Linked DNA regions of Homo sapiens. The protein of the gene in region 1 interacts with the protein of each later gene in a biochemical or structural test. Each region holds a gene or a part of one and is shown on either strand. Other genes may lie near its edges.

The links. The genes of interacting proteins can lie anywhere in the genome.
Region 2: the proteins of RAD18 (region 1) and POLK form a complex in vitro, tested with the Homo sapiens proteins (one study listed by BioGRID).

What each region holds. Positions count from the first base shown.
Region 1 is NC_000003.12:8,897,334-8,901,112, reverse strand, and holds part of RAD18 (E3 ubiquitin-protein ligase RAD18), read left to right. Parts: intron 1-2,065; coding exon 2,066-2,219; intron 2,220-3,779. UniProt on the Homo sapiens protein: E3 ubiquitin-protein ligase involved in postreplication repair of UV-damaged DNA. Postreplication repair functions in gap-filling of a daughter strand on replication of damaged DNA.
Region 2 is NC_000005.10:75,577,838-75,581,616, reverse strand, and holds part of POLK (DNA polymerase kappa), read right to left. Parts: intron 1,062-3,779; coding exon of another isoform or gene 1,020-1,061; intron 409-1,019; coding exon 169-408; intron 1-168. UniProt on the Homo sapiens protein: DNA polymerase specifically involved in DNA repair. Plays an important role in translesion synthesis, where the normal high-fidelity DNA polymerases cannot proceed and DNA synthesis stalls.

The DNA.
Region 1 (3,779 bases):
GATTTGCATTTCCCTAGTGACTAATAAACAATTTGTGCATAAAGTGCTGCCTCAGTATGTAACTCATGGTCATTGAACAACTCGAACTTGTTCATGCAGTTGTTAAAGGATATTTCTAGAAACTAGTTTAGCACTTGAGAAAATCTGACTGAATATTTCCCATTAAGAAAAGTTTTTTTAATTAGTTGAACCTCTCTTGAATATCATTGATGGCTTGTATGTATTTATGAACATCAATATTACTCTTTCCGGGGTTCAGAGGTGATTGCTGCTTTTAGATTGCTGTGCATGAATGAGATGTCTGAGAGGGTAAGGTATGTGAGAGAGATGAAGACAGACACAGACTGACTGAAAAGATGGATTTTGTATAGCATCATACAACCAATATAATTGTTGCTCTTTAGAACATTGAAGTGCTCATGTAAGTGAACAAGTTGCATATTCTCTCAAGTGAAAACTTAGCCTGTTTTTGTTGTGTGTCTCTGGGGAGCTCTGATGTCTGAGCCTCACTCTTCGGGGCTCTATTTTGGAGTCCTGCATTCTGAGATCTAAGGGCAAGTAGGAAGGATAACTTATTTTTTATGCCCACAGATTATTGAATGCTGTTTGTTCCCAAGAGGGAATATATCTTCTAGAAGTGTATGTAAGAGTGGAAGAAGTAAGAAAAGAATACAGACAATGTGCAAAAATAAAAGATTGTTTTAAGTTGAATTCCTGTTCCCTGGTTTGCTAGCTTGCTTGCATGCACCTCACTAGTTGAGTAATATAGTCCCTGGGTGAACCGAGTTGACTGGGGGATTGGCTCCTCTTAATGTGATTCTGGTATCTGTTTACAAGAGGAGTTCCTAGAGGTTCAGGATGGTCATCCTGGCTAAATTCTTTTTCCCTTTTCCAGATATACATTAGAGGGTGCTGTTTTGTTTTGCTAATGATAGTTTATTGACAGCCAGATGACATTAGGAGCATATTTTTAGGAATTACACTCTTGTGAAGTATGCTGTTCTCTCAGTGTAACAAAAACTTAGAACTATTTCTGAAAAAAATTTAACTGTATGAACTTGGCAAGGTTTTTTGAAGAATTTGTTATGTTCTTTCCCCATAAATTCTCTCTGTATAATCAAACCTTGACAATTGTATTTTTAGTGTGCTTTGTTGAAGACCACTTGCCTCTACAAGTGCTTGATGAGTGATGTGTGAAAGCTCTGTTTCTCTGTGAGGAAACACATGAAAGGAGCTCTGTAGTATTATTAGCACATGTAGCTTGCATGTGAGGTACCTCCTCAGTTCCTGAAAGTTAAGGACAGCACAGATGAAAATCCCAGCAGCGTTCATGATGAGTGGGAGAATCCTGGGCACTAAAGAATCTTTCACAGATATTCTTCCACTCATATTTGTAGAAAATTGGCCATACCCATATGCCACATTTTTGTAAACACTGCATCCTTCCAGCTTTTTGGGGTCTTTATTTTTATCTGCAATAAGAGACCTTGAAATCTGAGAATATGACAAAGAATGCACGGAAATGTGATGTGTATTGGATCAAATGGAAATATTCCTTATGTCTGTTTAGTTGTCCTTTTCCATAGAGAATAATTAGATTCTAGTTAACCTAGAAAAATGTTTAGAAAAATGTCCAGATAGATTCACTATCATATAATAGTAGCAAATATTGTGGTTGTCTTATTAGTTGAATCTGTAGTCTTTTTTTGGTTATACTTCTTATGTTGGTTTGTCAGTGTTCTCTGATCTATGAAATATGCAAGAATTCCTTAGTGATATGTTAATAGAGGCCTCATTAGAATTACAAGATTCTTCCTGCTTCTGGTTTTAAAATAAATTTTATTTTTAAACTAATTAATCTTGGAAAAACATGGGCTGGACAGTATAATTAGATAGCACCATTGTAGTGTTAATTCTTGCTCTCTGGCTGTCACTAGAGTTCTGGAATCTATGTGACATATACTTCAACTTTACTAAGTGCACATGGCAGTATTAAGTGTTGCAGAAGTAATAGGCATACAGAAGTTGTAGATTTTAAGGTACTCTTAAATTTATTTTTTCCTAGGACAGGAAGATAATATGACCTCAGTAACAAACCACTTTTCTCAATCAAAGCTGGACTCCCCAGAGGAATTGGAACCTGACAGAGAAGAGGATTCTTCTAGCTGTATTGATATTCAAGAAGTTCTTTCTTCATCAGAATCAGATTCATGCAATAGGTAAGAAACATGCAGTAGTTGATTATTTTAAATATCTACTTCATATGCACATGTAGATAGATAGGCAGAAATAATTAGAATGTAGCTTTGAGGCATGGCATGGTGTGTCACTCTTACATTTCAGTCCCCTTTTACTGCTGGGTCTTCTTCACAGTGATAACAAGGCAGGATTTGGGAAGGTAGTGCAGGGATCACAGGGTGAGTTTGGTCTCTACTCTATAGCCTTTATGTAGATACTTTTCCTACCGTTGGAAAAGAAAGCATGATAGACAGTGAAATTTTTGTCAAGACGATGAGTAAAGGAGATAAAAACAACTATATTGGAAAACAGAAATGATCAGAAAGACATGGCGCATAGGAGGGTTAAGAAATGAAAAATTTAACTGAGTAAATAGAATAGATGGGGAAACTTTAAAAATGAGAAGTTTGGTAATGAGTCATTTTGAAAAGATATTTTAAAAAATATATAGGGTTTATTTTACACACACACACACACACACACACACACACACGCATGCACACACACATACCAGTTTTTGTTCCGGTCTTTCACTTAATGTTATGTCATAAATGTTACGTTTCTATAGGTTGGCACAAAAGTAATTGAAACCACAGTTACTTTTGCACCAACATAATAGCTTATGTTTATAATTGTTATTTTTTAATGAGTACAGTATTCTGTTATGTCTCTGCGCTATAATTTACCAGACCCTTCAGTTTCTGTTAGAGCTCTACATTTTTCCCAGTGTTCTACTTATGTACCTGATGCTATGGTAAAGCTCTTCCTTTGTTTCTATTGAATACTTTTTTTTTCATTTTTTTGAGACGGAGTCTCACTCTGTTGCCCAGCCTGGAGTGCGGTGGTGCGATTTCGGCTCACTGCAACCTCCACCTCCCAGGTTCAAGCATTTCTCCTACCTCAGCTTCCCAAGTGGCTGGGATTACAGGCCTGTGCCACCACGCCTGGCTAATTTTTTTTTTTGTACATTTAGTAGAGACAGGGTTTCACCGTGTTGGCCAGGCTGGTCTCAAACTCCTGACCTCAAGTGATCCACCCACCTCGGCCTCCCAAAGTGCTGGAATTACAGGCATGAGCCACCGTACCTGGCCACTTATCTTTATTATTCTGATATGTAGGCATTGCCCTCTGAATGAATTGTACTGATTTAAAATGCCTACCTATCAGAATCATTGCTTATTGCCAGTGTTATTTAATGACGCTGAAACTTAGTCAAGAGAGACACCCATTTGATTCTGGTAACTGATACCATAGAAATCAGGAAAAGATTCAAACTTAGAAGGGACTACCAGTCAAGACCAAATTCCTTTAGTAGCATCATACTATGTGGTATTTATTTATCTGGTCCAACTGGGCGTTCTCAGGGTGGGGTTAATGAGTATATTACATAGATTTGGCCTTGCTGTGCTGAAGACATGCCAGTCTTGTCACCAGCTTCATACTCAACCCCTCAGATTCTGTTATCAAGGACGCTTGTAATCAAATTGAAGCTTAAGTGGTAGAGGAAATTTTCATTTTGGGGATGTTCCTTGTCTTTCACT
Region 2 (3,779 bases), on another chromosome or scaffold:
ACTAGGTTCACAGCTATTCTGAATAGGTAAAGTTGTTAGAAGTTGAATGAAAGACTAAGTAAGTAAAATGTTACTATATACTTTATAATGAGAAACTACTAATATTACACTTAAATTAGCCAGTCTGAAAATTATAACTACAGTGGCCATCAATACTCTTTTAAATACCTGCACTGGCTGTCAGTGTTGTTTTCTGCTCAATTCTGAAACGAATTTCCTTTACCACTTCCTGGGCTGATGTTCCAAAAACAACTGAGTTTTGGAGTATTTGAGGATTGTTTTGTTCTTCAAAGTTCACTTGGAAAGGATCTCCTGGGGGCTGCACATCAGAAGGACTCTCTTCAAAAAGTAGTGGAGAGATGGATCGTTCATGCTCACTCAGTTTATTAACTTCCTTTCCTGGATTATCTAAGTCATAAACAGGAAAATAACTCACCTTTATTTTAAGAAGTATATACTTCATAAGTTAGGTTTCCCTACATTATTTCTGAAGACAAAAACAAAAATCTAGTTTAGTTTAGTTTCTAGGATCCAAGATCAGAAATGCCATCATTTATCATTTAATGTTTTATAACCATTAAAGAGAACACTGATTATGAATTTTTCTTAAAAAGACTATTATCCATTTCCACAGTATAAATATTAAAAGGAAATATCTTATGTAAAACTCACTAATGTTCGTACCTAAATTAATTGAAATTCAGAATTAGGTTTCAGTTCACATTACCTTTTTCTTAAAAAAAAAAAAAGGAAATCTTTTCTTTATTCTTCTTTAGGAAGAAAAAGAATCTTCGAAAATTAGAATTTAGAATATAATAAACAATATATAATAATTATACTGAAAATAAGTTTTGTTTTTAGAAGGAAAAACACTTAACTTTTCTTCATTTATGGAAGAAACCTTTTAGATGTTAAAATAATCTGAATTTTCTTCTTTCAAATGCTGATTTTAATTTTGATTTGCTTGTTTATAAAGTATCACTTTGACTAAGGGCACATTTGTAATAAATAGAAATTACCTGTGAAAGTTATGCTTCTTTGAATATACAAATTCTGAAGGTCTGATTGGATAATCCAAGTTTAAGAAAAAGAGACGTTATTATTAATAGGCTATAAACTATTATTACAAAGTAAAGTAAAAATACCAGTCTGGTTATTGCCTCTTTATATTTATATTTTTCATAAATGGACTGTAAAATATTCTTAAATCTATACTGATACTAAAAATGTCTCCATGAACAAATCTATTAAAGCCTGTTTTCTTGGCTTAATGTAGAAGAAATACAATTTAAATGTATTTATAACAACCAAGGTTAGCAACAAAGCTTTCTGATCCCATCTCGTAATTTTATTACATATAAATATTTTCCAAATTAAGGTCAATACAGAAGAAAAAATTAAATTTCTAGTTTTAAGATGCATACGAATGTATATTACTTGAAAAATGTATTTGGCTGTTTAGGAAAAAATTTTAAAGATAATATAAAATAAATATGACAGACATCTGATTAATTTAAAAATTTAAAATATGTAGTGTGAAGTAAGTCATAGATGTTAATTCAGTCAGATGTTTTCCAAATCTGAATTCCCAGGGCACATACACAATAAGCTTATTTTCTTTCTCTCTTTTTTTTTTTTTTTTTTTAAGACAGGGTCTCCCTCTTGCCCAGGCTGGAGTATAGCTAGGACTACAGGCGCGAGCCATCACGCTTAGCTAATTTTATAATTTTTTGGTAAATATAGGGTTTCACAATCTTGCCCAGGGTGGTCTCAAACTCCTGGCCTCAACTGATCCTCCCACCTCAGCCTCCTAAAGTGCTAGGATTATAAATGTGAACCACCTTGCCTCGCCAATAAGCCTTATTTTCAAACTTACATTAGCTGATATTTATGTGCTTCAGTTCCTGTCATTTTTTAATATGCTGGTTTTAAAATGTAGAACAATTCAGAGGGGAAACAGGCCAGGCAAGGTGGCTCACGTCTGTAATCCCAGCACTTTGGGAAGCTGAGGTGGGAGGATCACCTGAGGTCAGGAGTTCGAGACCAGCCTGGCTAACATGGTGAAACCCCATCTCTACTAAAAATACAAAAATGAGCCAGGAATGGTGGCGCACAGCTACTCCGGAGGCTGGGGCAGGAGAATTACTTCAACCCAGGAGGCAGAGGTTGCAGTGAGCTGAGATTGTGCCACTGTACTCCAGCCTTGGTGACAGAGTGAGACTCCATCTCAAAAAAATAAAAAAAAATAAAAAAAAAATAAAGACTGTGAAACAATTGAAATGGTATCTACCTGGAGCCCTTTTCCCCATCTGGATGGGTAGAAGTCACGGTAAAGAAAGCTACAGAAAAACTGCAAACCAAGTAAGTTATCTGCCACATTCATAAACCCGTTCTGCAGAGTTTTTTATGCCATGTTTTGTACCTCATGCCTCTACCACCCTGCCCTCAGGTGAGCCACTGTGAGAGCAGAACTATACAGCAGGAAGTGAAGAATGCTGCCTTCTCACACATTATCAGAGCTGCTGCAGAATGTTCAGGTACCTTTTCAATCTGAACTACTTTCTACTTTTTTGTGAGGCCTGGCTGTGTAACTAAGAGCTGAAGTAGTTTCTTATTTGCTTTGTGACAGAAACATCTTTATAATCCCCATAACTAAGGTAATCAGAATGTAACACTAGGATTAAAGCATTTCATTTGGAAGACAAGTGCTAAAAAGTGTATGGTATTTCAGTTTCTTATATTATCTGGCACTCACCATCCAGATTTACATGGGAGAGTAAACATTTAAAAAATTATTATTTTATTTGTATGTAGAGATGGTAGTTAGCAATATATTTCCAAAGACAAACACCTTTTAGAAAATGGGGAAACAGCAAAACAATGTCTTGGACTTTAGAGGAAGATATATCAATTGCCTTCCACAGTTCCAATGCACTATTGACAATTTCCCATGGCATGATGTGAGGTGAGACACGCCTGAAAGTCCAGCCCACAGGTATTTACACATGAGAAGAAAAGTTTAACTATTCCAATTGTTTAAGAATATGAAAATACACGAAGAGGGCAATATACAAGTAAATATGTTAAAAGCAATAGATATTAAAAATTCACATATTCATAGTGAGTTTGGACATTATAATAAATGAAAAGAACATTAGTAGGCTGGGCGTGGTGGCTCATGCCTGTAATCCCAGCACTTTGGAAGGCCGAGGCGGGCAGATCACCTGAGGTCAGGAGTTTGAGACCAGCCTGGCCAACATGGTGAAACCCCACCTCTACTAAAAATACAAAAAATTAGTCGGGTGTGGTGGCACGCGCCTCTAATCCCAGATACTTGGGAGTCTAAGGCAGGAGAACTGCTTGAACCCAGGAGGCGGAGGTTGCAGTGAGCTGAGACTGCACCACTGCACTCCAGCCTGGGCAACACAGTGAGACCCTATCTCAAAAAAAAGAAAAAAATTAGTAGAAAATGAAAACATTTACTTTAATCCCAATGTAAAGCTTTTAAAACACATCATGCAAGTAATTGTTATGGGAGGCCCTCAGGGGATGCTTTGACATAATTATTTAATGATTTTCCCCCATTCTCTTGTGAAAGTAAGGAATTAATAAAGTAAGATTTTATACAAAGTGACATCAGGCTTTATGTTCCACATCCTCAAACAATAAAGTTACACCAAATAAGGAAAACCTTTTGCTCTGTGCCTGTGTCGAGAAATGATGATTATTGTTTAATGCTCCTATAAAAAAAAAGAGAGAGCTATCCCTTAGCACTTTAA